Linked DNA regions of Homo sapiens. The protein of the gene in region 3 purifies or fractionates together with the protein of the main gene of each other region. This does not show direct contact. Each region holds a gene or a part of one and is shown on either strand. Other genes may lie near its edges. The genes, in order: ALDH5A1, IDH3G, PRKD3 and FUCA1.

What was found.
Region 1: the proteins of PRKD3 (region 3) and ALDH5A1 purify together in Homo sapiens (affinity purification with mass spectrometry; one large-scale study listed by BioGRID and IntAct). This does not show direct contact.
Region 2: the proteins of PRKD3 (region 3) and IDH3G purify together in Homo sapiens (affinity purification with mass spectrometry, with the first as the bait; one large-scale study listed by BioGRID). This does not show direct contact.
Region 4: the proteins of PRKD3 (region 3) and FUCA1 purify together in Homo sapiens (affinity purification with mass spectrometry; one large-scale study listed by BioGRID and IntAct). This does not show direct contact.

What each region holds. Positions count from the first base shown.
Region 1 is NC_000006.12:24,534,344-24,541,722, reverse strand, and holds the end of ALDH5A1 (succinate-semialdehyde dehydrogenase, mitochondrial isoform 2 precursor), read right to left. Parts: 3' UTR 4,516-7,379; downstream 1-4,515. UniProt on the Homo sapiens protein: Catalyzes one step in the degradation of the inhibitory neurotransmitter gamma-aminobutyric acid (GABA).
Region 2 is NC_000023.11:153,784,693-153,790,390, forward strand, and holds the end of IDH3G (isocitrate dehydrogenase [NAD] subunit gamma, mitochondrial isoform a precursor), read right to left. Parts: intron 5,601-5,698; coding exon 5,503-5,600; intron 5,133-5,502; coding exon 5,020-5,132; intron 3,444-5,019; coding exon 3,383-3,443; intron 3,264-3,382; coding exon 3,131-3,263; intron 2,906-3,130; coding exon 2,772-2,905; intron 2,462-2,771; coding exon 2,359-2,461; intron 2,256-2,358; coding exon 2,109-2,255; intron 1,758-2,108; coding exon 1,663-1,757; intron 1,581-1,662; coding exon 1,520-1,580; coding exon of another isoform or gene 1,457-1,519; exon of another isoform or gene 1,282-1,456; coding exon 1,180-1,281; 3' UTR 1,076-1,179; downstream 1-1,075. Other genes in the region: SRPK3 (SRSF protein kinase 3), read left to right, coding at 58-165, 242-311, 389-481, 644-828. UniProt on the Homo sapiens protein: Regulatory subunit which plays a role in the allosteric regulation of the enzyme catalyzing the decarboxylation of isocitrate (ICT) into alpha-ketoglutarate.
Region 3 is NC_000002.12:37,283,931-37,292,439, forward strand, and holds part of PRKD3 (serine/threonine-protein kinase D3), read right to left. Parts: intron 7,070-8,509; coding exon 6,938-7,069; intron 5,584-6,937; coding exon 5,426-5,583; intron 2,440-5,425; coding exon 2,247-2,439; intron 1-2,246. UniProt on the Homo sapiens protein: Converts transient diacylglycerol (DAG) signals into prolonged physiological effects, downstream of PKC. Involved in resistance to oxidative stress.
Region 4 is NC_000001.11:23,849,139-23,857,647, forward strand, and holds part of FUCA1 (tissue alpha-L-fucosidase precursor), read right to left. Parts: intron 5,423-8,509; coding exon 5,222-5,422; intron 1-5,221. UniProt on the Homo sapiens protein: Alpha-L-fucosidase is responsible for hydrolyzing the alpha-1,6-linked fucose joined to the reducing-end N-acetylglucosamine of the carbohydrate moieties of glycoproteins.

The DNA.
Region 1 (7,379 bases), on a different chromosome or scaffold from region 3:
CAGTTCAAGCGATTCTCCTGCCTCAGCCTCCCAGGTAGCTAGGATTACAGGCGCCCACCACCATGACGGGCTAATTTTTGTATTTTTAGTAGAAATGGAGTTTCGCCATGTTGGCCAGGCCGGTCTCAAACTGCTGACCTCAAATGATCCACCAGCCTCGGCCTACCAAAGTGCTGGGATTACTGGCGTGAGCCACTGCGCCCAGCTGACTAAATTAATCGTGTTATGTCAAAATTCATAGGTTGAAGCTCTAACCCCCAGTACCTGAAATGTATTTGGAGATAGAGCCTTTAAAGAGATGTGATTAATTAAGTTAAAATGAGTAAAATGAGGCCATTAAGATGGGTCCTAATCCAATCGACTGGTTTTCTTATTAGAAGAAGAGATTAGGACCTGCAGAGAGACATCTGGGGCACGCAGGCACAGAGGAAAGATCATGGGAGGACATGGCAAGAAGGCGGCCATCTACAAGCCAAGATGAGAGGCGTCAGGAGAAACCAAACCTGCCGACACCTTGATCTCGGTCTTCTGAGAATTCATTGAGCGATTCACTTATTCAATTATGTATCCTTTTTTTTTGCATGTATATAATAGTGAAAGGAAAGTTTAAAAAAGCTACCAATCTTGCCAAGTTACTTTCAAAGTCATTTATGAAGAGGTACTGCCAGGGATTTCCTAGGTAGAGATGAAACAGTTCTGTATCTTGATTCAGGTGCTGCCTACACAAATCTAACTATTGATGTGATCAAATTAGGTAGAGGTGTACAAACACTCACATACAAATGAGTGCACATAAAAACGAGTGAAATTGGAATAAGGCCTGGATTAACAGTTTTGCACTGGTATCAGTTTCCTGGTTTTGATAATTGTATTACATAGGTAATAAGCGAACCACTGGGTGAAGGGTACACGGGACTCTGCATTATCTTTGCAACTTCCTATGAATTTATAATTATTTCAAAATTAAAAGTTTAAAGATGTTGAGAAGGAAAGGCCAGATCCACATATCAACAGTAAAATAAGCATTTCCATTAAAATCAGGAACAAAGTTAAGAAAGGAAAAAAAAAAAAAGAAACAAAGTCACCATTTCTCCAACTAATTGGTCCCTAGAGCCTCTCTTGTTGAGTTGAGATTAGCAAGCAGCAAAGCTTCCTTTATTTGAAGCCTACATGGAGAGTATTATCACCTCCATTCTCCTAAAGATGATGAACCCAGAGTTGCAGGACTGAGACTTTATTGCAGCAGGAAGAGAGCACATAGGCTTATACGGTCATGCCTGGCATAGTGAAATTTCTGTCAGTGATGGACTGCATATATGATTTATGGACCCATGAGATAATGGAGCTGAAAAGTTCCTGTCACCTAGTGATGTCGTAGCCATCATAAAGTCCAATGCAGCCCAATGCATTAATCATGTTTGTGGTGATGCTGGTGTAAACAAACCTGCATTCTCAGTTGTATAAGAGTATAGCACATACAATTATGTACAGTATATAATAAGTGACTATGCTACTGGTTTACGTATTTATTATACTGTACTTTTCATTGTTATTTTACAGTGTACTCCTTCTACTTATTAAAAACAGTTTATTGTAAAACAGTATGTGGCTGGGTGCAGTAGCCCACTCCTGTAACCCCAGCACTTTGGGAGGCTGAGGCTGGAGGATTGCTTGAGCCCAGGAGTTTGAGACCAGCCTGGACAACATGGTGAGACTCCATCTCTATAAAAAACATGTTTAAAAGTTAGCTGGGTGTGGTGGCGAATGCCTGTAGTCTCAGCTACTCAGGAGGCTGGGGTAGGAGGATCTCTTGAGCCCAGGAGGTCAAGGCTGCAGTGAGCTGTGATGGTGCCGGTGCACTCCAGCCTAAATTACAGAGTGAGACCCTGTCTCAAAAACAAAACAAAACAAAACAAAAGAAATACTGGGTTATACCAGCAGTATAAACGTGTCTTGTTTACTGTGCCTCTTGATTGCATTATTTTCTCTTGTGCTTCAATTAATCTCGTGTTGCTTTGTTCATCACGGTCCCTTTGTCATAGAAAATCCACGGCTATTGTTGCCAGTAAGAGGCCACATCAAGTGACTGATCTTGAAACAAGAGATTAAGGATTACCAACCAATGGGTAAAGGAGTTACAGCAGCTTTTAAGGCCCACTGCCTGAGGAGGAGCAGCTTTGCTCAGGTTATTACTGCAACAAAGGAAGACACGGAGAAGACGCTGATGCAATTCTGAAAGGATTACATCTACGACTCCATCAGGACCCTTGCTTGGGCTTGGGGTGATGTTACCAAGGAACGTATAAATGACATCTGGAAGAAGACACTCAAGAGGTTCATCCGTGATTTCAAAGGATTTGCCAAGGACAAGGAGGTTGCAAAAACCAACAAGGCTGTGGTTGAGATGGCAAACAATTTTAACCTGGGGGTGGAAGAAGAAGACATTGAGGAGCTCCTACAGGTGGTTCCTGAGGAACTGACTAATGAGGAGTTGTTGGAACTGGAACAGGAACACATACCTCAAGAAGAGGCAAGGAAGAAAAAACTGCAGAAGAAAAAGAATCCCCATGAAAATTCACAGTGAAGAGCTGAGAAGTTTTTGCAGACCTCAGTAAGCGCCTTAAAAATTCTGAAAACATGGGCCCCTCAACACCAAAAGGGTTTCATTAACAGAGAGGAATGTTCTTTATGCACTGTCTGCTTACAAGCAAATCTATGATGAAAAAGGAAAGCAAGCAAACCACCATGGACATATTTCTGATGCATGACATCTCCTAAGAACCTCAGGTAGGTCTTGTTATCCTAGCTCCACGTTTTTTTCTTTTTTGAGTCAGGGTCTCACCTTGTCACCCAGGCTGGAGTACAGTGGTGCGGTCACGGCTCACTGCAGCCTTGACTTCCCGGGTTCAAGCGATCCTCCTGCCTCAGCCTCCTGAGTAGCTGGGACGACAGGCACGTGCCACCACACCTGGCTAATTTTTGTATTTTTTGTAGAGACAGGGTTTCGCCGTGTTGCCCAGGCTGGTCTTAAATTCCTGGGCTCAAGCGATCCGCCTGCCCTGGACTCCTGAAGTGCTAGGATTACAGGCGTGAGCCACTGGGCCCAGCTGTCCCTGCGTGTTATTGCCCCTGAAGACCTTCCAGCGGGGCAAGATGAGGAGGTGGGAGATAGAAATATCCATGAATCTGACCCTTTGTAGGCCTAGGCTAATGTGTGTAATTGTGTCTTAGTTTTTAACAAAAAAGTTTAAAAAAATTTAAAATATAAAAAAGCTTGTGGAACAAGGATATAAAAAAAGAATATATTTTTATACAGTTGTGCAATTAGTTTGTGCTTTAAGTGCTAAGTGTGATCACAAAAGAGTCAAAAAGTTAAAAAATTTTAAAAATTTATAAAGTAAAAAGTTACAGTAAGCTAAGGGTAATTTATTATTGAAGAAAGAAAAATATTATTTAATAAATGTAGTGTAGCCTAAGTGTAGAGTGTTTGTAAAGTCTAGAGTAGTGTGCAGTCATACCTTAGGCCTTCACATTCACTGTCACTCACTGACTCACCCAGAGCAACTTCCAGTTCTGCAAGCTCCATTCACGGTAAGTGCCTTTTACAAGTGTAATTTTTAAATCTTTTATACTTGATTTTTACTGTACCTTTTCTATGTTTATATACATAAATACTTGCCATTGTCTTACAACTGCCTACAGTATTTAGTACAGTAGCATGCTGTGCAGGTTTGTAGCCCTAGGAGCAATAGGCTAGACCGTATAGCCTAGCTGTGTAGGAGGCTGTACCATCCAGGTTTGTGTAAGTACTCTACAGTGTTCGTACAAGGACGAAACTGCCTAATGACGCATTTCTCAGAATATATCTCTGTTGTCGAGCAATACGTGATTGTAAAATGTGAGACGACATTTGCAAAAATGTCCACTAACCACTGGGCAGCAGTGCTGTCTGTGTTCTAAATTATGGTGAGGGCTGGCTACAATGGTGCACTCCCATAATCCCAGCACTTTGGGAGGCTGAGGCGGGAGGGTGGCTTGAACCCAGGAGTTTGAGACCAGTCTGGGCAACACAGTGAGACCCTGACTGTTCAAAAAATGAAAGAAAAATTAACTGAGTGTGGTAGCAGGTGCCTGTGGTCCCAGCTACTCAGGAGGCAGAGGTGAGAGGCTTGTTTGAGCCCAGGAAGTCATAACAGTGGGGCGTGTAGGAGAGAGAGATAGGCCAATCTGTGACGGCTGGCCTATACACCTTTCTGTGACCGCCACCTCTGCAAACCAGGTAAATTCTCAGTTCAGCTTAGCAAACATTCTATAAGCGCACACCATGGACAGGCCCTTCTCTGGGTTTTAGGGCACATCATTTCACATGCTGGCTCCTTCCCCAAGGCACTCACTGATTACGGCTCTCTGGGGGAGGGAGTGCTATTTACACAAATGCAAACTGGTCTAATATCATCCAATAAAAACTCAAAAGATCACCAAGTAGGGGGAAAAAAGCACAACCAGACACCTTAATACAGGGAGAGGAAATTCTGTTAATTCCACGTTTATTAATCACACAGCTCTCTGCAGACTAGACACTAAAACACACAATTGTCAAAAACTAGAAAAATGAGTTATGTCCACGTTTTAAAAGCAAAACTTTATAAATTTCTTACCACACTCATTCCCAAGTTTTATCCCACAAAGTATAGCATGAAACAATGACAACATACATATTATTCAAGTAAAATGCTATTTAAAATAGCTGCACACAGGTAATTAAAACACTAGGATCCAGTTTTTAGAGGAAAAAGTCATGTGGCACAATTTCAAGTTCATAATTGAAGTTAACAGTAAAACAGATTTGCTCACATTTGCTTCTGATCTTTATTTCTGCTGTCTCTCTTTAGTAGAATAAAGAAATGGCACTTCACATAAAATCATATTTAAAAGCTACTAAAATGGATAAACAGATGCAGATCAGCTCTTTAATGAGAATCCCTGCATAGCTGGAGGAAGTTCAAGGATAATTGTTTTTTCAAGGCAAATAGACTCTTGTTACGTGGCTAATTTCATGTACATTATCATCGCTGGGAAGTTCCTGCTGAGAACTCACGGTAGCTATGCCAGAAAAGTACTTTCTTCACAGGAGGTGTTGAAATAATGCCGGATAAATGCAAGTAAGGTCAATATCTCCCTCTTGGTCTAGATCAGGAGCTGGCAAACTTTTTCTTTAAGGAGACAAGTAGTAAATCTTTTAGGCTTTGCAGGCTATACTGTCCCTGTCCCAACTATTCAACTCTGCCAAGAAAGCAGTCCCAGACAATACCATAAATGAATGGGTGTGGCTATGCTCTAATAACATTTTGTTTATGGACACTGAAATCTGAATTTCATAGAATTTTCAGGTGTCATGAAATATTGTTCTTCTTTTGATTTTCTGCCCAATCATTTGAAAACATATAAACCATTCTTAGCTCACAGGTTGTATAAAAACAGGTGGCAGGCCAGGTTTGATTCGTGGGCCATAGTTTGCCAACCCCTGATCTAATGGTCCTTTTCTAGTCCATGTTGTAAAATGTATATATTTTTAAAATCCCGTTACATATGGCTACTTTATTTAAAAAACAACAAAAACGTTCAGTTAAAAATAATTCTCTTTCTTCCCACAACCAAGGGCCATTTTACTAAACAATAAGCTATTTCCTTTAATTAGAAAATTGATCAAGGATATACAATGAGTCTCTGGCCTCAATTTATGAACCCATGAGCCAAATATGCAAGAAGACTCAAAATTTGCCACCCAGCCAAAGAATCTACTGGCTTACAATGTTAAAAATTTATTTGGAAGTATTCCTGCACACATCTCAGCATCGGTAATCCAGAGTTATAAAAAATAATGTTGGAGCATTTGTATTCTTTTTTTGAGGCGGAGTCTCGCTCTGTCATCCAGGCTGGAGTGCAGTGGCGTGATCTCTGCTCACTGCAAGCTCCGCCTCCTGGGTTCACGCCATTCTCCTGCCTCAGCCTCCAGAGTAGCTGGGACTACAGGCACCTGCCACCACATCCGACTAATTTTTTTTGTATTTTTAGTAGAGACGGGGTTTCACCGTGTTAGCCAGGATGGTCTCGATCTCCTGATGTCGTGATCTGCCTGCCTTGGCCTCCCAAGGTGTTGGGATTACAGGCGTGAGCCACTGTGCCCAGCCCAGCATTTGTATTCTTAATAGAAAAAGGATGGATACATCTAAATCACAAGTAATTAAAATGTTATATAAAACCACCTAAAAACTACACAAATAAAGAGAAGACATTAACTGTCAAAATGCTGAGTATGTGATTCTTGACAGGGCCGGGGCACTGTCACTAGGAGATGAATTTCAGCTCTTCCTTCTCCTTGGGACCTTGGGAATGTGGCTAGTACACTCCAGGCCAGATGCTAGGCAGCTCCCTGTGTGCCCAGGGTCTTGCCAGACCTTTAGTTACTCAACCATAGCTTCCCAGTGGCTCAATGAGGGATGTTAAATCCTAGGTGGGGTTCAGGAGTAATTGCATCCAGCACTACTTTCATTCACATTTTCCTTCCACAACCCAGAATAACCACAAGATGTAAGTGGAGTCTACACAGACAGAGATGGGGAAAGGAAGGTGCTTCGTCTCCACCTACTTGGCCGCCTAATTGGATTTGCATCTGTTTAAGATTACGGAGTCTTTCTTTCAAAGTGAGAGGCAACGCCGGTCATAGCGGCTTTTGTTTTTTGTGCGTTATTTGAATGATGAGCTGTAAAAACTCTCATTAGATAAAAGGTGCCTGAAATTCAAGGGCTCATGCCTCTTCTACAAAGTGGGTTGGCAATTACAGAAATTCTTTCCCTTTTGGGTTGACTGTGGTGAAAGTACTTTTGCTCTTTTGGAGGTGAGGGAGCAGCACCACACCAGGACAGAAAGAACAGGCTCAGGTGACAGCCACTTACTCAGGCTCAGGTCGGTGGGCAAGTGGGCACTGGCCTCCTCCCATCTTGGCAAAGCCACTGACAGTAGGCAAGGAAGGGCTGGGCGGTGCTGCTCGTAACAATGGCTCTTGTATGTCCTTAGAATTTTCATTTTTTTGTGAAGTGCTTTTACTTTCTCTCTGGCTCACAGTATCGCAAGGAGCTAAGTAAGGCCTGTATGGAATCTCCACTGTATCCATGGGATGGGAGGTGCTGAACACACGCCCAAGGCAACAAGGCCACTCAGGGAAGGAGCCAGGCCATGCCACTGCGTGCCTTCCATCCTACCAAGCTGCTTCTGCTATTCTTTGCTTTACACTTCAGCTCATTTACTCAAGGAAATGAAATGAAGTGGCAAACAGGACAGAAATGAAAATAGAATTCTTTAAGTGGTAAATTTGGGAC
Region 2 (5,698 bases), on a different chromosome or scaffold from region 3:
CGTGGGGGCAGGACAGCCTTGGCCCCAGCCCGTCCCCAGGGCTCCCCTTGCTTCCAGCACAAGCACTTCACGGAAGACATCCAGACTCGGCAGTACCGGGCCGTCGAGGTGCTGATCGGCGCCGAATACGGCCCCCCGGCAGACATCTGGAGCACAGCCTGCATGGTACGCCCGCCCGGGCTGCCCTGTGCCCAGGGCCAGCAGCCCACCAGCCAGCAGCCTCACCTCCTCCCCCTTCCAGGCCTTCGAGCTGGCCACTGGTGACTACCTGTTCGAGCCGCATTCTGGAGAAGACTACAGTCGTGATGAGGGTAAGGGGTGAGGGCTCTGGGCTCAGCCTCCCGGCCTCCCGGCCTGCCTGCCCCCAACCTCCTCTTTCTGCCCACAGACCACATCGCTCACATAGTGGAGCTTCTGGGGGACATCCCCCCAGCCTTCGCCCTCTCAGGCCGCTATTCCCGGGAGTTCTTCAACCGGAGAGGTGAGGGCCCGGGCAGCCTCAGGCCATGTGGCTGCAGGGAGGGTGGGACGGGGACCTTGGATTCTGCAACAGAGGGAACACTGGGTCCCAGGAGCCAGGGCCTAAGCAGAAGGCAGGTCCAGAGACAGGGACAGAGCCTGACGCCCGCTGGCCTGCCCGCAGGAGAGCTGCGGCACATCCACAATCTCAAGCACTGGGGCCTGTACGAGGTACTCATGGAAAAGTACGAGTGGCCCCTAGAGCAGGCCACACAGTTCAGCGCCTTTCTGCTGCCCATGATGGAGTACATCCCCGAAAAGCGGGCCAGTGCCGCTGACTGCCTCCAGCACCCCTGGCTCAACCCCTAGGCCCGGCTGTGGCTCCACCTCCAGCTCTCCGTGCCTTAAGGGAAAAGCGGGACAGCTCCCACCACCCTGCTGGGCGCCAGTTCTCCACAACCACAGGGCAGAGAGACGCTGGAGCCAGGCCCGGCTCTCAGAGCGTGTTCTGCCTGAGACCCCCGTGAGGGCTCTCGGAGAAAGTGTGTGTATTCCTTTCTTAATAAAGTGTGGACTGAACATCGGTGCCTGGAGTGAGGGAGGCCCACGCCAAGTCTAGGGAGAAGGTGCTTTATTCTGGGATCTGCGTACCAGGCTGGCTGGGGTGCTGGAGTGGGAAGGGGAATCCAAGGAGCAAACCAAGAAGGTCCTAGGGCCAGCCTAGGCCTCCACGGCCCGGCCGTTGATGACGCGGATGTGGCGGATGACGTCCTGGATGGCTTCAGATGTTGTGCCCTGGCCCCCGATGTCCGGAGTGTGCATCTGTAGGACACAGGCAGGCTCGGCACACACCAGGCCCTGCCACCCCCCGCTGTCTCCTGTGACGTGCAGGACTGGGATTGCCACAGGAGGGAAGTGGCACCAGCTAAGGGCCAGAAGATGGGGCCAGATCCAGTACCATCCTCCCCTGGGGGCTGTGGTCAGTGCATGAGGCGGGCTACAGGAGGCTGCAGGGGGAGACTGGGCGGGGCAGCAGGGTAGGGTGCGAGGGGAACCTCACATTCTCATTGTCCATGGATGCCAGGACAGCCTTACGGATGGAGGTGGCATAGGAGTGCAGCCTAGAGGATGGGACAGCCAGCCTTCAGTCCCTGGGGCCCGGAGGGCTGGCCAGGGGCTTGCGGGGCACTGGGAGCCACTCACTTGAGGTGGTCCAGCATCATGCAGCTGGCCAGCAGGGTGGCCGTGGGGTTGGCGATGTTCTTATTGGCGATACTCTTGCCGGTGTTCCTCGTAGCCTGGGGAGGCAAGACGAAGGAGAGTGGGTGGAGGGCAGAAGGATGCCGGGCAGTGACTCTGCTCCTGTGACACGTCCAGAAGAAGCCACTCCACAGGGACAAAAGCCCACCAGCGGGTGCCAGGGGTTGGGGGAAGGTGTGGGGACAGATAGCTTATGGGGACAGGCTTTCCTCGTGGGGTGGTGAAAATGTTCTGGAATGACCTGGTGGTGACGGCAGTACAACCCTGGATATCCAAAAAACTACTAAATCATGCATTTTGAACGGGCTAACCGGATGGGATGAGTGTGCCTCACTAAGTCTGTGAACAGGAGAAAGGCGGCAAGCCGCGGCACTGCCACCGGCACTCACTGTTTCAAACACCGCGTACACATGGCCATAGTTGGCCCCAGCCACAAGGCCTGGGCCCCCGACCAGTCCCGCGCAGACATTGTTGACGATGTTGCCATAGAGATTGGGCATCACCATGACATCAAACTGCTGGGGCCGGGACACCAGCTGCGGGACAAGGAGGGGGCTGGCTGAGGAGCAGATTCGGAAGCATGGGTGAGAGAAGCCCAGGGCACTCAGGGCAGGGGGACAGCACTGGGCAGGCTAATACCTGCATGGTGGTGTTATCCACAATCATGTTCTCGAAGGTGATCTGAGGGTAGCGGGCTGCCACCTCCCTGCAGCACTGGAGGAAAAGCCCATCGCCCAGTTTCCTGGTGGGGGGTTAGGAATAGGACACCAGCTTGGCCATCGCAACAGTCAGCCAGAGGGACGGGGCGTGCAGAGGGCCCCAGGAGGCTGGGGTCTGAATTCTAACCTGTCCCTCACCAGCAAAATGGACAGAATCCCACCCCACCTCCCCTAAGTGTGGGTTCTGGCAAGGCCTCGAGGGCAACAGGGCACTCGCCTAGGGTGGCACCTCGGTGGGTAGCTGGGCTTTTGGACCACAAATCCCTCAGAGCAGGCCCAAGCAGGCCACTGCAGCTGCTTCTGGACTGCTCGCAGAGAGGTCAGGGGACATACATGATGTTGGCCTTGTGCACGGCCGTCACTTTCTTGCGCCCGCTCTCCTGCGCCAGCTTGAAGGCATACTCGGCAATGCGCAGGGACTTGGCCTTGGTGATGATCTTCAGGCTCTCCACCACTCCCGCCACACTCTGAGGAGGGCATGGGGAGAAGAGACCCATGTGCTACTGAAGAGCAGCACTGGCCAAACAAGCTGGCGCGACCGGGCCACCGTGGGAAGCAACCCTGTCTGCCTATTTCTGGCTTCTCCCTCGGGCACAGCCCCTGCCCTCTAAGGGTACACCTGTCCCTGGTTCCTTAAGCTCTCCCCTTAATCTTGACGCTGGGGGGGCTCATCTCGGGCCCCCCATGCACACCTCATGCTCCAGGCTGCTGTACTCGCCCTCTGTGTTCTCCCGGACAATGAGGATGTCTATGTCCTTGTGCCGGGTCACCACGCCTGGAAGGCTCTTACAGTGGATGACGTTGGCATAGAGGTCCAGGCTGGTGCTGGGAGGGGACGGAGAAAGAGGCTGCTAGGCCTGACAGGTGGCTGACTGGAGCCAGACTCCACTGGCTCACCCCACCTTAGCCCCACCAAGCCCCCAGCCCGCACACCCGGATCTCACCGAAGGATGTTGTTTCGAGATTTGTGCGACGGTGGCAGGTTATGGTTGGTTTCGATGTTGCCTACAAAACACAACACAGGCTTAGTGGCACTGCCCATCCCCGCCCCACCTCAGCAGGGCAGCTGAAGGCTGCCGGGGTCAGAAGACTTGGGGAGCAAAAATGTTTCCTGAACACTAGAATGCTAGAATGCAACTTCCAGCCTAAGCCCCACGAGGCTACACGCTCAGGGATCTCGAAGGGCACCTGGTGCAGCAGGTGCTCCATGAATAACCCCTGAACGACGGAATGAACAAGTCAATAAATGAATAAAGGCTGGCAACCAGCCAGGCAGCCATGCCATTCTCCATCCAGGCTCTGGAGCAACAGAAAGTGACCACTCTTTACTAACAGGTTGGCCGGCCAGGCTGGAGCTAGCAAGGTGGCCTTGGCGGTGTTACTGCCAAGCCCCCGCATCAAGGCACCACACTCAGAGGCAGGCGGGGGCTGCCTGGAGAAGGCCACGGATTGGCCGGACCCTACCCTACGACCCAGGACACCTGGAGGAAGGGAAGCAGAGGCCAGTGGCCGCTGGAGACAGCAGTCAGAGGGCGCCAAGCAGAGGCCGCCTGCTGGTGAGCGGTACCCCACCCAGACTGCTCCACTCACAGCGCGGGGGTCCCCTGTGGCTGGCACAAAGGCCCCTCTACTTGACTGCCAGGGCCTGGGGCTCCCCCTGGGTTCATCTTTGCTCACACGCTCCTCACACAGTGCAAGTAATGGGCTGAGTGTGCAAAATGAGCAATGGAAGTAGTTTAAGGACCTCAAGTGAAGCCCCAAGAATCCCTGCCTGGGCTGTGCCATCCACCTCCAGGCTGGCTGCAGCCGAGGAGCCAGGCAGAGGGTCGGAACTGCATCTCTGTGATACCTGGTTTGTGAAGAAAGATGCTGAGGGTCAAAGCTGACCCCAGCAGAGAGGACTGTCTCAGGAGGGAAGGAGGGGTGGGAGGGAACCCATCAGGGAGCCCGTCACTGGACAGGCTCACACACAGCTGCTCTCACTCGAATCCCAGCATCGCAGCGCAAACAGGCCCGAGGAGGCGTCCACCCAGTCTCCAAGCACGAGGGTCCTCTCTAGCCAGACAAGCCCTGAAATCAGAGCCGTGGGGCCCCACAAGAGTCAGCTCAGAGGGAGGTAAAAGAAATCACAGGGGCTGGGCACGACGGCTCACGCCTGTAATCCCAACACTTTGAGAGGCTGAGGCGGGCAGATCACGAGGTCAGGAGTTCAAGACCAGCCTGGCCAACATGGTGAAACCCACTCTCTACTGAAAATACAAAAATCAGCTGGGCGTGGTGGCGGGCGCCTGTAATCTCAGCTACTCGGGAGGCTGAGGCAGGAGAATCGCTTGAAACTGGAAGGCAGAGGTTGCACTGAGCCGAGATCACACCGCTGCACTCTAGCCTGGGCGACAGAGCGAGACCCCATCTCAGAAAGAACGCAAGAAAGAAAGCAAGAAAGCAAAAAAGCAAGCAAGCAAGAAAGCAGGAAAGCAAGCAAGAAAGCAAGCAAGCGAGCAAGTAAGCAAGAAACGAAGGAAGAAAGCAAGAAAGAAATCACACCTAGGGCCCCATCCTGGCCCCTGGCCCTGGAGCTCACCCTTCAGGGCCACGCGGTTCCGGCGGATGGCCATGATGGCATTGCGAATGTCCTCTTCATCAGCATTGGAACTCACGTGCACCTCTTCAAAGTCCACTGGTACACATGCGTGCCTGAGGCACGGCAGGGTCAGGGAGGCTGGCCCAGACCCCCCCGCACCTCCTCCAGGAAGCCTGCCCAGGCTACCTCTCTCCTGTTGCTACCTGCCCTGACCTGGCTCTGACTGAGAAGGGACTGGGCCCACCTTCACTGACTGATGGGGACACGCTTGAACTCCACAATGCACACTGTGGCAGGACTGGTGCCACCTTCCCCGAGCCCAGGCCAGTCTGGCGGGATCACAGGCCATGGGACGCAAGGCCTGGGCTTACAGGTCGTCTTGCCATGGCCTCACCGAGTGCTTCTGGGCGCAATGCCCCTCTTGGCACAAAGTCCTCAGGGCCCCCTGGCTGAGGACAAGGCGGGGACCCAGGAGCTCCATACCTGAAGACGGACTTGACATGCAGCATGAGCTCTGGCCCGATGCCATCCCCTGGGATCATGGTCACCGTGTGCCGCCCGCCATACTTAGCGGACGGAGGCTGTGGGAGGCAGAGGGTGAAGGTGGGCCTTCGGGGATCCCACATGCCCCCAGCTCGGCCCCCATGGGCTCAAGCCAATTCCCTTCTTCCCACTGGCG
Region 3 (8,509 bases):
GAATTTGTGGACTACCTGCAAGTATGTAGGTTTGAATGGCAGGCAGGCAGTTTTAGTTCTCTATGTCCTTACCCATGTTTTTATTAATTTGCTTATGCTCTCTTATACTTTACATACGCTTTTAAGCTACCTTGAAGTTTTTACACATCAAAATAGAAAATAAAGACAAACAGATTAATGAATTCTTAGAATTGTGTATTTTCTCAAATGATCCAGTATAATGGTTTTATCTTAACAAAATCATTTTTCTTTCGTAGACTGACAAATGAAAATATTTTTATTTTTTAAGTATCTTAATTCATACTATTAAAATAGGGAAATCACTGAATTATAATTATTTTAATAAATGAAATAGCTTAGCTATACTGAAATAAAACCTACCATTTTCTGAACCAATATAAGCATAAAAGATTCTTCTTCCAGAACCCTAAAAAGTTGAATAATCCAGTAGCAGAATTAACAGGTTTATGTAAAAATTCATTTGTATTTATTTTAGTTCCTCTACAAAATACTGTACTTTTCTGCATATGGTTTAAGAATGTTTCTGTTCTGCTTAGCAGAGCAGCAATATTAACTACCTTCATTAAGATTATTTGTTGGCTAGAATGTGTACATCTGTTACTAATGTTCTTTCCCAAAACATTTCTCAGTGGCTGCTTGCCAATACATTTTTAGGTTGATATTTTAAAGTATTAATTTATGTAGTAACTCATATTCAAAGCAAGCTGTTGAAATAAAATTTCATCATGTTATAATGCCTAATAGTTATCAAATACCTGACAACAAATGTATAATCTATTCCCCATTTAATGTTCTTGTGTGCTATCATACACTGTCAAGAAAAGCTTTATTTTATTATTATTATTATTTTTTAATTACACTTTAAGTTTTAGGGTACATGTGCACAACGTGCAGGTTAGTTACATATGTATACATGTGCCATGCTGGTGTGCTGCACCCATTAACTCGTCATTTAACATTAGGTATATCTCCTAATGCTATCCCTCCCCCCTCAGAAAAGCTTTATTTTCTTATATGCTTAAGCTTATATACAATTATCTTACTCTGTCTTGTAAGCAAGAATTTCTTGTTACAAAACCCTCAACCCTAATGTTTTATTTAGATCACTTGATAATTCAATTCCACAAATACTTCTACTATATAAAAAGTACAATACCAAGAACTGCTAATTACATGAAAAAAGTATATAAGATTATAGTTAGACTACTTATATCCTATCCTGGCTCAATGACTAATAATCTAAGACATTTACATTCTATTTTAGTTTTCACTCTACTGTGAAAAGTTTCTACTGTACAGCATTGCTGAGAAGGTATGAGACAAAAAGATAAAATCATCTTTAAAAAGCATAAAAGCATTATATAACTATAAGCAAATAATTATTCCAGTATGCTGTTAAAAACTTGTTTCATTAAGAGATGTTTTGAGAATACTATAGAAGTGTGCTGGGTTAGTATCCAAATACGGGTGGGTCCCTATCATAATTTTAGTAGCTTTTATTACGTCCTACCTATTTCAGGGTGATTATTCTCGGGAATGACAGTTTTTGTATAATTCTCCAAACTACATACTTAAAAACAAAAAAAACCCAAAACTCTTGCAGTATGCTTATATGTGTGTGTAATAAATGTTTAATGAAAAGAGGAAAGCGTTATTTTTATTTTGTTTAGTGTCTGGCTCTGGAATCAAAAAGACATAAAACCTCAAGTATCAGCTTTGCTGCCTACTAGCTATTCTGTATTGGGAAGTGATAAGCATACAGGTGAAGAAGCCATCCTCAGAGATCCACATTCTAGTTTTTCTGTTTACTAGCTACATGATCTTAAGCAAGTTACCTAATCTATGTCTATAAAATGAAATATGACTCCTATTACTACTAACTCCTATTACTAGTACTCCTATTACTATTAGTAGTTAATAGTAATAGTAACTCCTATTACTACTAGTATATTAACAAAAGCATAATTCACATACAATTGCTTTGAAGACTGAGCATGTAAAGGTTTACTGTTCTACTATAGTGCCTGGCACCTAACACACACTGCAGATAGTAGTAATAGTAGTTTACACACACATTTATATTTTGTTTATATTTCTCTTTCCTTTATATAACAATTATGAGAATAATTTCTTTGGCTAATGCTTCTGAAATATAAATATTTTAAGCCTATATATAATAACAAAAACAGACATAAATTTTAATTAGGGAAAACACCTAATCCTACCTTTACACTGCATTCCTTGGCGAAAGAGGCCTTTCAGTAACCGCTTGCAGTACTGACATATCGTGGGACGGGTGTAAGAGTGAACAGCAAATGTGTGTGGAACTTTCACTCTGCACATTACCATCTTTTCCATCCAGATTGGGCGACCACTCCAAGAAGGAATTCTCTTACTTGGTTCCTGGTGGACATGTGACTATAACATAAGTAATTTTCATAAGTGTAAGTCAATATTAAAAACAGAGTAGTGGGAGCAGAGCTTAACCACAAGAATCATTTATTTCAAACACTAAAGCCAAAAAACTCTAAAAATGTTGTTCTCAGCAGTTTCCTTTGCAATGTTTAATTTACCAATCTTTGAATGAGAAAAATGCAGATTCTTTTTGCTAATATTTATGCTTAAAAACATCTAAGATATGTTAATTCTCAGGTATATATTCACTGATGATTATTTGCCAGGCACATTTCAGCACTTTACAAATCAAATACACAAACTTTAAAACAAATAAATGAAGAAAGTATTATTGCTGCTCATTTTGCATTACTGAATGTGACATCTGAATATATTTTGAAACACATTTTAGATTTTCAAATTTATCTTAATACTAAAATATATACATACATTTTAAGTCTAATTAATAATGATAAACAATGGCAGATACAAAACTAATTAAAACAAGTTTCAGTAATTCAGCTTTAAGAAGAAGTAAACTTTGTTTACCCATTTTGGAGACTATTCCAGAACCTAGCTAGTTGGTTTTCTGCCTGGTCTTCTGGCCAGGCGTGGTGGCTCACGCCTGTAATCCTAACACTTTGGGAGGCCGAGGTGGGCGGATCACCTGAGGTCAGGAGTTCAAGACCAGCCTGACCAACATGGAGAAACCCCGTCTCTACTAAAAATACAAAATTAGCCAGGCGTGGGGGTGCATGCCTGTAATCCCAGCTACTCGGGAGGCTGACGCAGAAGAATCGCTTGAACCCAGGAGGTGGAGGTTCCGGTAAGCCGAGATCATGCCATTGGACTCCAGCCTGGGCAACAAGAGCGAAACTCCATCTCAAAAAAAAAAAAAAAAAAAAAAAAAAAAAAAAAAAAAGAAAAAGAAAAAGAAAAAGAAAAATACCTGCCTACACTATCAATCTGAGGCATTTTATAGTGCTCTTCTCCAACCAGTTGTTTTGTCCTTTTCTTTTCCTTTTCTTCCCTTTTTTTTCTTTTTTCTCCTCCCCTTACTTCTCCCTTGCACTTCTCTGTCTCTTGTTTTTTTCTGACTTCTTTTCCTTCCCTTGGTTGAACATATTAATGTAGAATTACCCAACTTCTCTGAATTACAAACATGACTAGTTATAGAAGGCAGCTGAAAGATCTCAGGACATCAGTTCTGGCAGTGAGGATGCAAGCAGGTACAGCAAAATCTGTTCATATAGCTAGATGGTAGTTGGGTATTAGGATTTTGTGCTTGAGTATTTGGATTATGTTTTATTCAATTTTGTGTCCCTAGTATATAACAGGGCCTGGCATACAATAATCGGTGAATGTGTGTTGAATGAATGAAATGAGCCACATTGAACTGGGTGATCTATAATTTAGTTTGATTATTCCCTTCATATAGAAAGGGTCATAGTTACCAAAATCTACTTACCCCTCAGGTTACAAAAATTTTTAATTCATGCCTTCTTTAATTTTGCTTTTTGTTCACCTGGTAGAAAAACCCAAACAGTTGGAAAATAAAGTTCTTCTTTTTGAGACTATGCTTGAACTGACTAAAGTAAACCCTGAAAGCCCTTCCATGCTACAAGTTCTACTTGTTTAAAAATACCCTGAACAATCTAACCAATTCAGACATGTAACTGCACTTCTTATACTTCCCTAAGGAGCTTTCATGTTCAAGATAAAATATAAACTAATGAAAAATGTAACACCTTATCCACTTGCTCTGTCCTTCTGCTATTTCCTAATCTAGTAATACTCAACTGGGCATAGGTGGCGTAACAGCATCATTTGTGGGGCTCTTGACATACCTCTATTCTACTGTCCTCATTCCTAGGTAAGTTCTCTGTGCAGTTCAGTGTATAAGATGCACTAACTTTTTCCTACTAATCTTTTCCAGGCTCTTCTGTAGGTTTATACCAACCCCTCATTTTCAGTCCTTTATGCCGCAGCACTCTTTTTATCCTTTAAAAATCTCACACTAGGGCTAAGCAGTAAGAGAAGATGGAATTTTTGTGAAAGGATTTCAAAAGCTTTTACTCTGGTGTCTTAACTTAGCAAAATATTATGATCACAGTACCAAGACAAGGCCTTGATTTTGCCATTAATTTACAGAAGATCAGAGAAGTTACAGAAAAAACTAAATAATAAGATTACAACCTACAGATGGAAGTCATTTCAAATACTATGAAATGTACAAGGGAGTTATTTCTTTTTTCCTGGATCTACTGCCTTTGCCCTTGAGAGGTACACTGTATTAGGAAAAAAAATCACTGATTTATTAATAATGAGATCTGGGTTTAATTCCACTATCTCTTACTAATTTGCTCTCTGACTTCACACAAGTCACTTAGCTGCTCTGTGTCTCAACTGTCTCATCTGTATACAGATCTGCAGATAGCAGTGCCTCATGCCTGCGATCCCAGAACTTTGGGAGGCCGAGGCGGGCAGATCACGAGGTCAGGAATTCAAGACCAGCCTGTCCAACATGGTGAAACCTCATCTCTACTAAACATACAAAAATCAGCTGGGTGTAGTGGCACGCATCTGTAATCCCCGCTACTTGGGAGGCTGAGGCAGGAGAATTGCTTGAACCCAGGAGGCGGAGGTTGCAGTGAGCAGAGACCGTGCCACTGCACTCCAGCCTGGGCGACAGAGCAAGACTCCATCTCAAAAAAACAAAAATTAAAAAAAAAATTAAAAAAAAAAAAGATTTAAGTATGGAGACCAGGAGCCAGGATACTGACTAGAAGGCTAAAGCAGTGGTACAAGCCATAATACCATCCCAAGGTGTACAAAATGCAATTCATTACTACCGGTAAGTCCTGTCTCCATTACTACATTTTATGTTTCTTAAGTGTAGGAACATTACCATTCTTTAGCATATAAATTATGTTCTAGAGTGATGTCATACACCCTGTAGAAACACAGAGAATAACTACTACTAAAATGTCTATTACCTTAGAATACGTACCTCTTCACTGGGAAGGGCTACATATTCAGGCTGTAGGGGTCTTGGAACTGAGAGGCCGGGTCCTGGTAAAGATACATTTGACAGACGTCTCTTTCTTACTCCACTACAGTTATTTGGAATCTTGAAGGCACATCGTTTATGGTAATTTAATCCACAGCCTAAACATATTTTACAAGGTAAAATATAAGATTTAAAAAAAAATTTACTATTTAAGTGTGATACATAAAAACCACTGCTTCTTTTATTTAACATATTTTCTGTTAGCCATACCTATCCTAATTAAGAACCCAGACAGCAGGCTAAGTGGAAGCTAATGAATTCAAGAAGAAAAGGAAATGTGTAAAAAGGATAAGTCAGCTAGGGCAGTGGTTCTTGAAGTGTGGTCCCTAAGGCAACCACCTGGAAATTTGTTAGAAATGTAAATTACAAGGCTCCACCCCAGATCTACTGAATTAGAAACTACGGGGATGAGGCCCAGCAAAGTGTGTTTTACGATGCACAATACAGTTTGAGAACCACTGCCTTAAAGCACTAGTTAGCAAACTATGGCCTCTGTACCAAATTCCTCCTGTGACATGAAAATTTTATGAAACTCAAATTTCAATGTCCCTAAATAAAGTTTTATTGGAACACAACCATATCTATTCGTTTACATATTGTCTATGATTGGTTTCATACTGTAATAGCAGAGTTAAATCATGACAGAGACCATATGGCCAACAAAGTCTAAAACATTTACTCTCTGTCCCTTTACAGAAAAAGTTGATTGACCCTCCACCTTAGAAGACTGTTTCTTCATCAGAAATGTGCACCTGTGTCCTACTCCTAGCAATTCTAATTCAGAACAAATTTGACAATTTAGTTGTATGTAAGAGACAACTTTTTTTTTTTGAGACAGAGTTTCGCTCTTTCACCCAGGCTGGAGTGCAATGGTGCAATCTCGGCTCCCTGCAACCTCCGTCACCCAGGCAGGTTCAAGCGATTCTCCTGCCCCAGCCTCCCGAGTAGCTGGGATTACAGGCATCCGCCACCACGCCCGGCTAAGTTTTTGTATCTTTAGTAGAGACAGGGTTTCGCCATGTTGGCCAGGCTGGTCTCAAACTCCTGACCTCAGGTGATCCACCAGCCTCGGCATCCCAAAGTGCTAGGATTACAGGTGTGAGCCACCGTGCCTGGCCAAGAAAACTTTTAAAAACAAAAAACAACATGAATATTTATGGAGCCATTATTTTGTACTAAATATTTAACCCTATTACCTGATTTAACCGTTTACTCTTTATGAAACCAGTGGGGCAGAATGTATTTTACGAGAAATTAATCTTAAGAGGTTTAGTAATTTGCCCAAGAATATGAAGTAGGTGGCAGAGATAAAATGAGAGTCCTGATCTCTCCAATTCTAAATCCTCGTTACCACCCTAGTCAACAGCTCGTCATCTTGCTTTTTCACTGATAATAAAAAATGCAAATGTGGAATCTTATTTCAAATGACCACAAAAATTTTAGAACACACACCTTCACATTTCAGTCCTTGACGTACCAATCCCCAGAGCATCTCACCACAGTAATCACAGAAAGTAGGAGCTTTGTAAGAATGTACATAGAGAGTATGTGGACGAATCTGGAAGTCTTCTACTGTGGCTAAAGCTTTAAAAAAGAAAAGTATTACAATACACGTTGTATTTGTACTGCGATGAGATTAAGAATGCTCACACATTCACTTATGTCAAAGTACACAGAATCATTTTTTCTCTGAAAGTTGCACTGGACCATAAAAGTAAATTATTTAATATTGTGATTTCAAACTCTAGTTTAGCAAGTCCATTTACTTCTCATCATTTGAGCTCCAGAAGTAGGTCATAGGTTAGTTATTTGGAACTCCAACAGCATTTTCTCATAATGACAAGATTACAAACAGACATTAGGTTACTTTAACCAATTAAAAACTGCTTAACTTACACAGTGGGAAATAGAACACTAAAGTAAAAACTACTATGGAACTTAACTTCAATTTATGGAAACGTTTCTGTGGAAAAAGATACTGAGTCCTAATTTAGGATCCCAGGATATACTTGTCTGTTTGTTCTCCACAGTCCTAGTGGATATGAGAAAGAAACTCCTTTCCCCTTAGTGAACGTCGGGACAGTAGACCCAAGGAACTTCCTCTCACCTCAACCTGCAAGTAGTCTGATGGAGTCCAGAGTAGAGAAGGAAGAGATGTGAGCAGGACTTCCAGGTGAGACAGGGAGTGAAACTCCTCAGGAATGAAGAGGAGGGCAAGGATTGGGAAATATAGAGATGGTTTGGGGTTGTTGTATAGAAGATGAATGATCAGTGTAGCAGGGAGTGAGATGAATGAGAGAATCAGAAATATAAGATGAGAGGAGTGGGGACTAATAAGGACAGAGAGGATCTCAAGAAAAGGCTCAAAGGTGAATTTGAGAAAAGGGAACTTGGTAGCAGGGCTCTGACCCATGGCTGGCCAGCTTGCTTCCTTTCTTCCATCAGTTCTCCTACTTGCCAAACAAAAAGTACTGCAGACCTACTATGTGCATTATTATGGCATTCTTTCTTCCTTTTCACTCCTTATTATCTTGCCCACATTGCTGCAGGATGAGATGGCAAATAGTGGGAATTAAAAAACAACGTATGGCAAGAATGCGTGAGGTGGAAAAAGTGAAAGGTAGAAAAAAGCCCAGTGGGACAAAAAGGGAAAGAGCATTTTTAATTTTAAAGCCACAGAAATAACCAGCATTGTAATTTCCTCTTCCATATCTTCATTACTTCTTTTTTTCCTGATTCTCTTTTCTAAACCCCAATTTTCTTCTTTTATGCTCTTTACAGAAATGGGGGTGGGGGAAGGGGAAAAAACAGAATTTCAGTGTAACTGTTTTATTTCTTTGACTCAGAGAAGAGTATATTTCTTTCAGACCAAATAATTTCCTAAGCTTAGTAACATTCAAGTAATTCAGTTTATTTTCCTATCCTGATTTTTTCCTTTTTTTTTTTTTGAGACAGAGTCTCACTCTGTTGCCCAGGCTGGAGTGCAGTGGTGCGATCTCGGCTCACTGCAAGCTCCACCTCCTA
Region 4 (8,509 bases), on a different chromosome or scaffold from region 3:
CATCCAGCTAATATCATTCTATTTTTAGTAGAGACAGGGTTTCACCACGTTGGCCAGGCCAGTCTCAAAACTCCTGACCTCAGGTGATCTGCCTGCCTTGGCCTCCCGAAGTGCTGGGATCACAAGCATGAGTCACCGCACCTGAGCTAAAAATTCTCTCTCTATATATATTTTTGTCACTATAAAAGCAGGTTAGGCTCATGTGAGTAAATGAAAAATCAGGCTATATTATATTAACTTGAATTTCAGGGAGTGGCCATGGAGCACTTCCTGTGACACTGTACTTCTCATGGTGCTGAGTGCAGTGGGAAGGGTCATGCCCCAGAAACATGAGGTGTGGGCAGGGAAGCTGAGAATTTCAGGACATTCCTTACGCATTGGGCTATATAAATGAACATGCTGCCCCTTTGGGAAAACTGCTATAAAGAGATACGTTCTTTTTTTTTTTTTTTTTTTTTTTTTGAGACGGACTCTTGCTCTGTCTCCCAGGCTGGAGTGCAGTGGCACAATCTCGGCTCACTGCAACCTCCGCCTCCTGGGTTCAAGTGATTCTCCTGCCTCAGGCTCCCGAGTAGCTGGGACTACAGGTGCGCACCACCATGCCCAGTTAATTTTTGTATTTTTAGTAGAGATGGGGTTTCACTATGTTGGCCAGGCTGGTCTTGAACTCCTGACTTTGTGATCCACCTATCTCAGCCTCCCAAAGTGCTGGTATTACAGGTGTGAGCCACCGTGCTCAGCCAAGAGATACATTCTTTAAGACTTCTGGAGTGGGATTTGGGTGTGTGTGTTTTTACTGTGACCTTGAACAGGTATTATACATATCCAGGCAGCTCAGAAAAACTAAGGTTATATAGAGAAAATTTTAAATTCATTACAGAATTTGAAGAATTCAGACAGGCATGGTGGATCACACCTGTAATCCCAGCACTTTGGGAAGCCAGGACAGGTGGATTACCTGAGGTCAGGAGTTTGAGACCAGCCTGGCCAACGTGGTGAAGGCCCTGTCTCTACTAAAAATACAAAAATTAGCTGGGCACAGTGGTAGGCACCTGTAGTCCCAGCTATGCGGGAGGCTGAGGCAAGAGAATCACTTGAACCCGGGAGGTGGAGGTTGCAGCAAGCTGAGATCGTGCCATTGCACTCCAGCCTGGGCAACAAGAGCGAAATTCCATCTCAAAAAAAAAAAAAAAAGAATTAAAGAATTCATTATAAGAATTCATTACAGTACTCCAAGTGACACCACACCATTAACTTTTGATGTCTTCTTCTAGTCTTTTTCCTATGTAGTTAATTTTATATAGTTGTAATAATATGTAACTTATTTTATTTATTTATTATTATTTAAAAAAAATTTTTGTTTCAGACGGAGTCTAGCTCTGTCACCCAGGCTGGAGTGCAGTGGCGCAATCTCAGCTCACTGCAACCTCTGCCTCCTGGGTTCAAGCAATTCTCCTGCCTCAGCCTCCTGAGTAGCTGGGATTATAGGCATGTGCCACCACGCCCAGCTAATTTTTTTTGTATTTTTTAGTAGAGACGGGGTTTCACCACATTGGCCAGGATGGTCTCGAATTCCTGACTTTGTGATCCACCCTCCTTGGCCTCCCAAAGTGCTGGGATTACAGGTGTCAGCCACCGTGCCTGGCCACTTATTTTTATTTTTTAAAATAGAGATGGGGTCTCACTATGTTGTTTAGGCTGGTCTTAAACTCCTGCCCTCAAGCAATCCTCTTGTCTTGGTCTCCCAAAGTGTTGGAGTTACAAGTGTGAGCCACCACCATGCCCAGCCAATATGTAACTTTATTAAAAATAATAATAATAATAGAGATGGGGTCTTTCTATTTTGGCCAGGCTGGTCTTGAACTCCTGGCCTCAAAGGATCCTCCCACCTTGGCCTCCTAAAGTGTTGGCATTACAGGTATGAGCCACTGTGCCCAGCCAATATGTAACTGTTTTTTCATTCAGTGCTCTAAACATTAACCCATATTAAATTTGTCAACATTTTTATGGTTACCAGGAGTTCGAGACAAGCCTGGCCAACATGAAGAAACCCTGTCTCTACTAAAAACACAAAAATAAGCTGGGCATGGTGGCACGTGCCTGTATTCCCAGCTATTCGGGAGGCTGAGGCAGGAGAATTGCTTGAACCCGGGAGACGGCGGTTGCAGCAGACCGAGATCGCACCACTGCACTCTAGCCTGGGTGACAGAGTGAAGTTCGTTCATAAATAAATAAATAAATATACACATACATACATACATACATACATACATACATACATACATACATACAAATAATCCTGGGAAGGACCTCTGCACAACTTTCTTGTGTAACTCTAATTATTTCCTTAGGACAGGTTTCTGTTAGTCTATTCAATGTCCTTAAAAGGGTTCTATTGACCTGCACTTCTATCCAGAGTACTTCCATCACTCTTACATAAAAAAGCTGGTTTTGCAGCCATAAAAGAGAATGTGTCCTTTGCAGGGACATGGATGAAGCTGGACATCACTCTTACATAAAAAAGCTGGTTTTGCAGCCATAAAAAAGAATGAGTTCATGTCCTTTGCAGGGACATGGATGAAGCTGGAAACCATCATTCTTAGCAAACTAACACAGGAACAGAAAACCAAACACCACATGTTCTCACTCATAAGTGGGAGTTGAACAATGAGAACACATGGGACACAGGAAGAGGAACATCACACACCAGGGCTTGTTGGAATGTGGGGGTGAGGGGAGGGAGAGCATTAGGACAAATACCTAATGCATGTGGGGCTTAAAACCTAGATATCGGGTTGATAGTTTGCAACAAACCATCATGGCACATGTATACCTATGAAACAAACCTGCACACTCTGCACTTGTATCCCAGAATTTAAAGTAAAATTTAAAAAAAGAGGAAAAAAATAATTAAAATCAATCATATAGTATGTTAGAAGGTAATAATAATAATAATAATAATAAAAAGTGGTTTGAGATCCATAGTTAAAAAATAGTGAACTCAGGCCAGCTGCCATGGCTCATGCCTGTAATCCAGTGCTTTGGGAGGCTGAGGCTAGATCTCTTGAGGCCAGGAGTTTGAGACCAGCCTGGGCAACATAGCAAGACCCTGTCTCTACAAAAAATTTAAAAATTAGCTGGTTGTAGAGGTGCACACCTGTAGTTCTAGCTACTCAGGAGGCTGAGGTGGGAGGACCACTTGAGCCCCAGGAGTTTGAGGTTACAGTGAGGTATGATCGTGCCACTGCGCTATTGCCTGCATGACAGAGCAAGACCCCATTTCATTAAAAAAAACAAAAAACTCCCCTCTCCCTCTCCCTCTCCCCCCTCTCCCTCTCCCCACGGTCTCCCTCTCCCTCTCTTTCCACGGTCTCCCACTGATGCCGAGCCGAAGCTGGACTGTACTGCTGCCACCTCGGGTCACTGCAGCCTCCCTGCCTGATTCTCCTGCCTCAGCCTGCCGAGTGCCTGCGATTGCAGGTGCGCGCCACCACGCCTGACTGGTTTTCGTATTTTTTTGGTGGAGACGGGGTTTCGCTGTGTTGGCCGGGCTGGTCTCCAGCTCCTAACTGCGAGTGATCCGCCAGCCTCGGCCTCCAGAGGTGCCGGGATTGCAGATGGAGTCTGGTTCACTCAGTGCTCAATGGTGCCCAGGCTGGAGTGCAGTGGCGTGATCTCCGCTCGCTACAACCTCCACCTCCCAGCCGCCTGCCTTGGCCTCCCAAAGTGCCGAGATTGCAGCCTCTGCCCGGCCGCCACCCCGTCTGGGAAGTGAGGAGCGTCTCTGCCTGGCCGCCCATCGTCTGGGACGTGAGGAGCCCCTCTGCCTGGCTACCCAGTCTGGAAAATGAGGAGCGTCTCTGCCCGGCCGCCATCCCATCTAGGAAGTGAGGAGCACCTCTTCCCGGCCGCCATCCCATCTAGGAAGTGAGGAGCGTCTCTGCCCGGCCGCCCATCGTCTGAGATGTGGGGAGCGCCTCTGCCCCGCCGCCCCGTCTGGGATGTGAGGAGCGCCTCTGCCCGGCCGCGACCCCGTCTGGGAGGTGAGGAGCGTCTCTGCCCAGCCGCCCCATCTGAGAAGTGAGGAAACCCTCCGCCTGGCAACCGCCCCATATGAGAAGTGAGGAGCCTCTCCGCCCGGCAGCCACCCCGTCTGGTAAGTGAGGAGCGTCTCTGCCCGGCAGCCACCCCATCCGGGAGGGAGGTGGGGGTCAGCCCCCGCCCGGCCAGCCGCCCCGTCCGGGAGGGAGGTGGGGGGGTCAGCCCCCCGCCTGGCCAGCCGCCCCGTCCGGGAGGGAGGTGGGGGGGTCAGCCCCCCGCCCAGCCAGCCGCCCGGTCCGGGAGGTGAGGGGCGCCTCTGCCCGGCCGCCCCTACTGGGAAGTGAGGAGCCCCTCTGCCCAGCCACCACCCCGTCTGGGAGGTGTACCGAACAGCTCATTGAGAACGGGCCATGATGACAATGGCGGTTTTGTGGAATAGAAAGGGGGGAAAGGCGGGGAAAGGATTGAGAAATCGGATGGTTGCCGTGTCTGTGTAGAAAGAGGTAGACACGGGAGACTTTTCATTTTGTTCTGTACTAAGAAAAATTCTTCTGCCTTGTGATCCTGTTGATCGGTGACCCTACCCACAACCCTGTGCTCTCTGAAACGTGTGCTGTGTCCACTCAGGGTTAAATGGATTAAGGGCGGTGCAAGATGTGCTTTGTTAAACAGATGCTTGAAGGCAGCATGCTCGTTAAGAGTCATCACCACTCCCTAATCTCAAGTACCCAGGGACACAAACACTGCGGAAGGCCGCAGGGTCCTCTGCATAGGAAAACCAGAGACCTTTGTTCACTTGTTTATCTGCTGACCCTCCCTCCACTATTGTCCTATGACCCTGCCAAATCCCCCTCTGTGAGAAACACCCAAGAATGATCAATAAAGAATAAATAAATAAATAAATAAATAAATAAAAAACTGGACACCCTACTACCCACACCCACTTTAAGATATAGATTACAACCAACACCGTTAAAGCCCTTTTGCATGCCCTTCTCCATCCCAGCCCCCTCCTAAATTTTGTTTATAATGATCTCGCTTTTCTTCATAATTTTACCTCCAAAATATGCATCTGTAAACAATATGCTGTTTTTGCAAGCTTTTGAACATTATATAAAATAAATCATACTGCATGTTAAAAAAAAAAAAACAAAAACAAAAAACTCAAAGGTGCTCTTACCGAAATGATTTCAGATTCTTCTGTAACATCAGACAATGCCATGTCACGACGATAGCCCCAGGAAAACTTGTCAATGCTGGTGCACATCTCCCACTTGTGATCTGGCAAGCTCTGTGGCTTGAATTTATCTTCACAGTTATAGTATCCTCCATGGTGACAGGAACAGTTCTGACCCCATCGGTCATTTACTACCACCTCATCCTAAGGAGGGAAAGAATATTTGGTCATGAGGAGTAAAACCACTTGACTTCTTTATGTAATACACTTTGGTAAGGCTCTATTTGGAAGCAAGAAACTTAGTCTAGAGCAGTGGCTGTCAACTGGGGGCAATTTTGCTCTGGAGGGGACATTTGGTAAAGTCTAGAGACATTTTTGATTGTCACAACGGGGGTGGTATGCCATCTAGTGGGTAGAGACCAGGGATGTTACTAAACGTCCTACAATGCACAGGACAGCCCCCACAGCAAAGAAATATTCAGCCCTAAATGTCAACAGTACTGAGGTAGAGAAACCCTGCTGCAGAGATACATGTCAGGGCTGGGAGAGCTTGCTTTAAAGATCATCTGGTAAATCACTTTTTCTATAAGAGGAGAAATGAACAGGAGAGGACCTGCCTGGGGCCATGCCCCTAGGCAGTTTCAAAAGCTGGAACTACAAATCAGGTATCTGAACCCATGGCAGGCTGTTTTCCAACTATATAATCCCAGCCTTACTTACGTAAAAAAAAAGTCTTAAGACAATCCCACTCAAAAAAAAAAAAAATAGCAAATTCTTTTTCTTACTTCAAGGTTTAGCTGAAGAATGATAAATCATACATGGAATATCTTAATGTAAATGTTAAATGCAGCATATTTTATAACAGAGTGGCCAATACAAGATAAAAACTGAAACCATTTGGGAGGCCAAGGCAGGCAGATCATGAGGTCAGGAGATAGAGACCAACCTGGCTAACACGGTGAAATCCCGTCTCTACCAAAAATACAAAAAATTAGCTGGGCATGGTGGCACATGCCTGTAGTCCCAGCTATTTGGGAGGCTGAGGCAGGAGAATCGCTTGAACCTGGGAGGCGGAGGTAGCAGTGAGCCGAGATCGTGCCACTGCACTCCAGCCTAGGCAACAGCAGAGCGAGACTCCGTCTCAAAAACAAAAACAAAAACAAAACTGAAACCATGTTCAATTCATCACGGCAAAAAGAGATTTATTAAAAGTTTAAAATTCCCATTTCTTGCCTGTTTTAGAGTCATTCACATTGGTATGAAGTTTCTCCTATGGAAGCTAGTTAAGTGCCAAAGAGAAATAGAAGAATAGTCATTATTTGTAACTAGTTCAATCCAATGTCTGGTACTTGATTATCAATGTCTGGGCATCATGGGTCACAGAATTGAAAAGGACAACTCAAGATCAATTCAAGAACAGGTATGTAAAAGCCATTTCAGAGAAAAATGGGGTATTAACAATCCTAATTCTTCATTCAACACCTACCCATCCGCTTATTCAATAAGTATTTACTCAACAACTACCATGGGGCTCACACTGTGGGCAGATACTGGGTCTCCAAGGTGAATAAAACAGAGGTCTTGCCCTCAACCATCCAGCAGAGACTAGCAGAGGAGACAGATATGTGGACAATTACAATATGACATCATATCAGAGTTTATGCCTGGTTACAAGATTATCAAGGGCTTTGAGGTTCATAGCTGGCTCCACCACCTAGTAGTCAAGGGGTCTTAGGCAGGTAACTTTACCTTTTAAGTTAGTTACTTATCTATAAAAACAAACAAACAAAACCAACCAAACAAACAAAATCCAAAGGCAAATATCACCCACCTCACAGGGGTTTGAGAGGGAGGGATAAAAGTGACAGTGTGCCCAGACTCTGGCTCAGAGTGAATAAAGGTGTCTCCTTGCCACACCTCCTCTTTCTCAGAGTCCTCAGGTGATGTGAACGCTCCCTGTACACTCAGCCTGTCAAGGACAGACACAACCATGCACTCCTTCATCCCACAGAAGCTAATGCAGTACCCTCCACTTTGGCATTCGAACCAGTGTCTATGGATTGTGGAGACCTCAGGACATACTTCTACTATCATACTGGTCACCCTACAATGTACTTTGTTTGTATGTCTGTCTTTCTCTTCAGACTGTAGTTCCCTAAGAGCAGAAACCATTCATTCAGCATTTCCAAGGCTTAGCATGCGGCATGCTACGGCACCGGCTCTCAATAAATCCTGGTAGAAATGAAGGAGAATCTACAGTCCCCATATGTCTGCGAAGCTACTGTGAAGATGGGTTGAGGCACACCCACACAGAAGGTCCTGGTTGCTTAGGAATTATTGTTTAAGAGAGGCCGGCCGGGAGCGGTGGCTCACGCCTGTAATCCCAGCACTTTGGGAGGCTGAGGCGGGTGGATCACAAGGTCAAGAGTTTCAAGACCAGTCTGGCCAACATGGTGAAACCCCGTCTCTACTAAAAATACAAAAAATTAGCCAGGTGTGATGGTGTGCGCCTGTACTCCCAGCTACTCGGGAGGCTGAGGCAGGAGAATTGTGTGAACCCAGGAGGCGGAGGTTGCAGTGAGCCGAGATCGTGCCATTGTACTCCAGCCTGGGCGACAGTGCGAGACTCCCTCTCAAAAAAAAAAGAAAAGAAAAAAAAAAGCCAAAAAAGTTCAGGCTGTCTAGCTAGTCATGCTTTTTAAATGACACTGGGGTTGATATTTTCTTCCCTTTCCCAATCCTGCATCTTTGGCTAGTCATTTTTCCTTCTGTGATACTCCTTAAGCACAAACACTAGACTGTAACCTCACGTAGCAAGCGACCTAGCTCGAGGGGTATACACCCTGAACATATATACATAGACGCCATTTCAGAGACAAATGGGGTATTAACAATCTGAATTCTTGGTTCAACACCCACCTACTTTTCCTATTTATTCAGCAACTACCATGAGGCTCACACTGTGGCAGACACTGAGTTTCCAAGGTGAATAAAACAGAGTTCTTGCCCTCAACGATCCAGCAGAGACTAGCAGAGACAGATATGCAGACAATTACGATATGACATCACATCAGAGTTCATTACCTAGGGATGAACTGCACATCTGGGAGGTCACAAACATTCATCAAGTTCCAGAAAACCACTCTTTTTTTTTTTTGTGAGACAGAGTCTCGCTCTGTTGCGCAGGCTGGAGTACAGTGGCACGATCTCTGCTCACTGCAACCTCCGCCTCCCGGGTTTAAGCAATTCTCTGCCTCAGCCTCTCGAGTAGCTGGGATTAGAGGTGCCCAC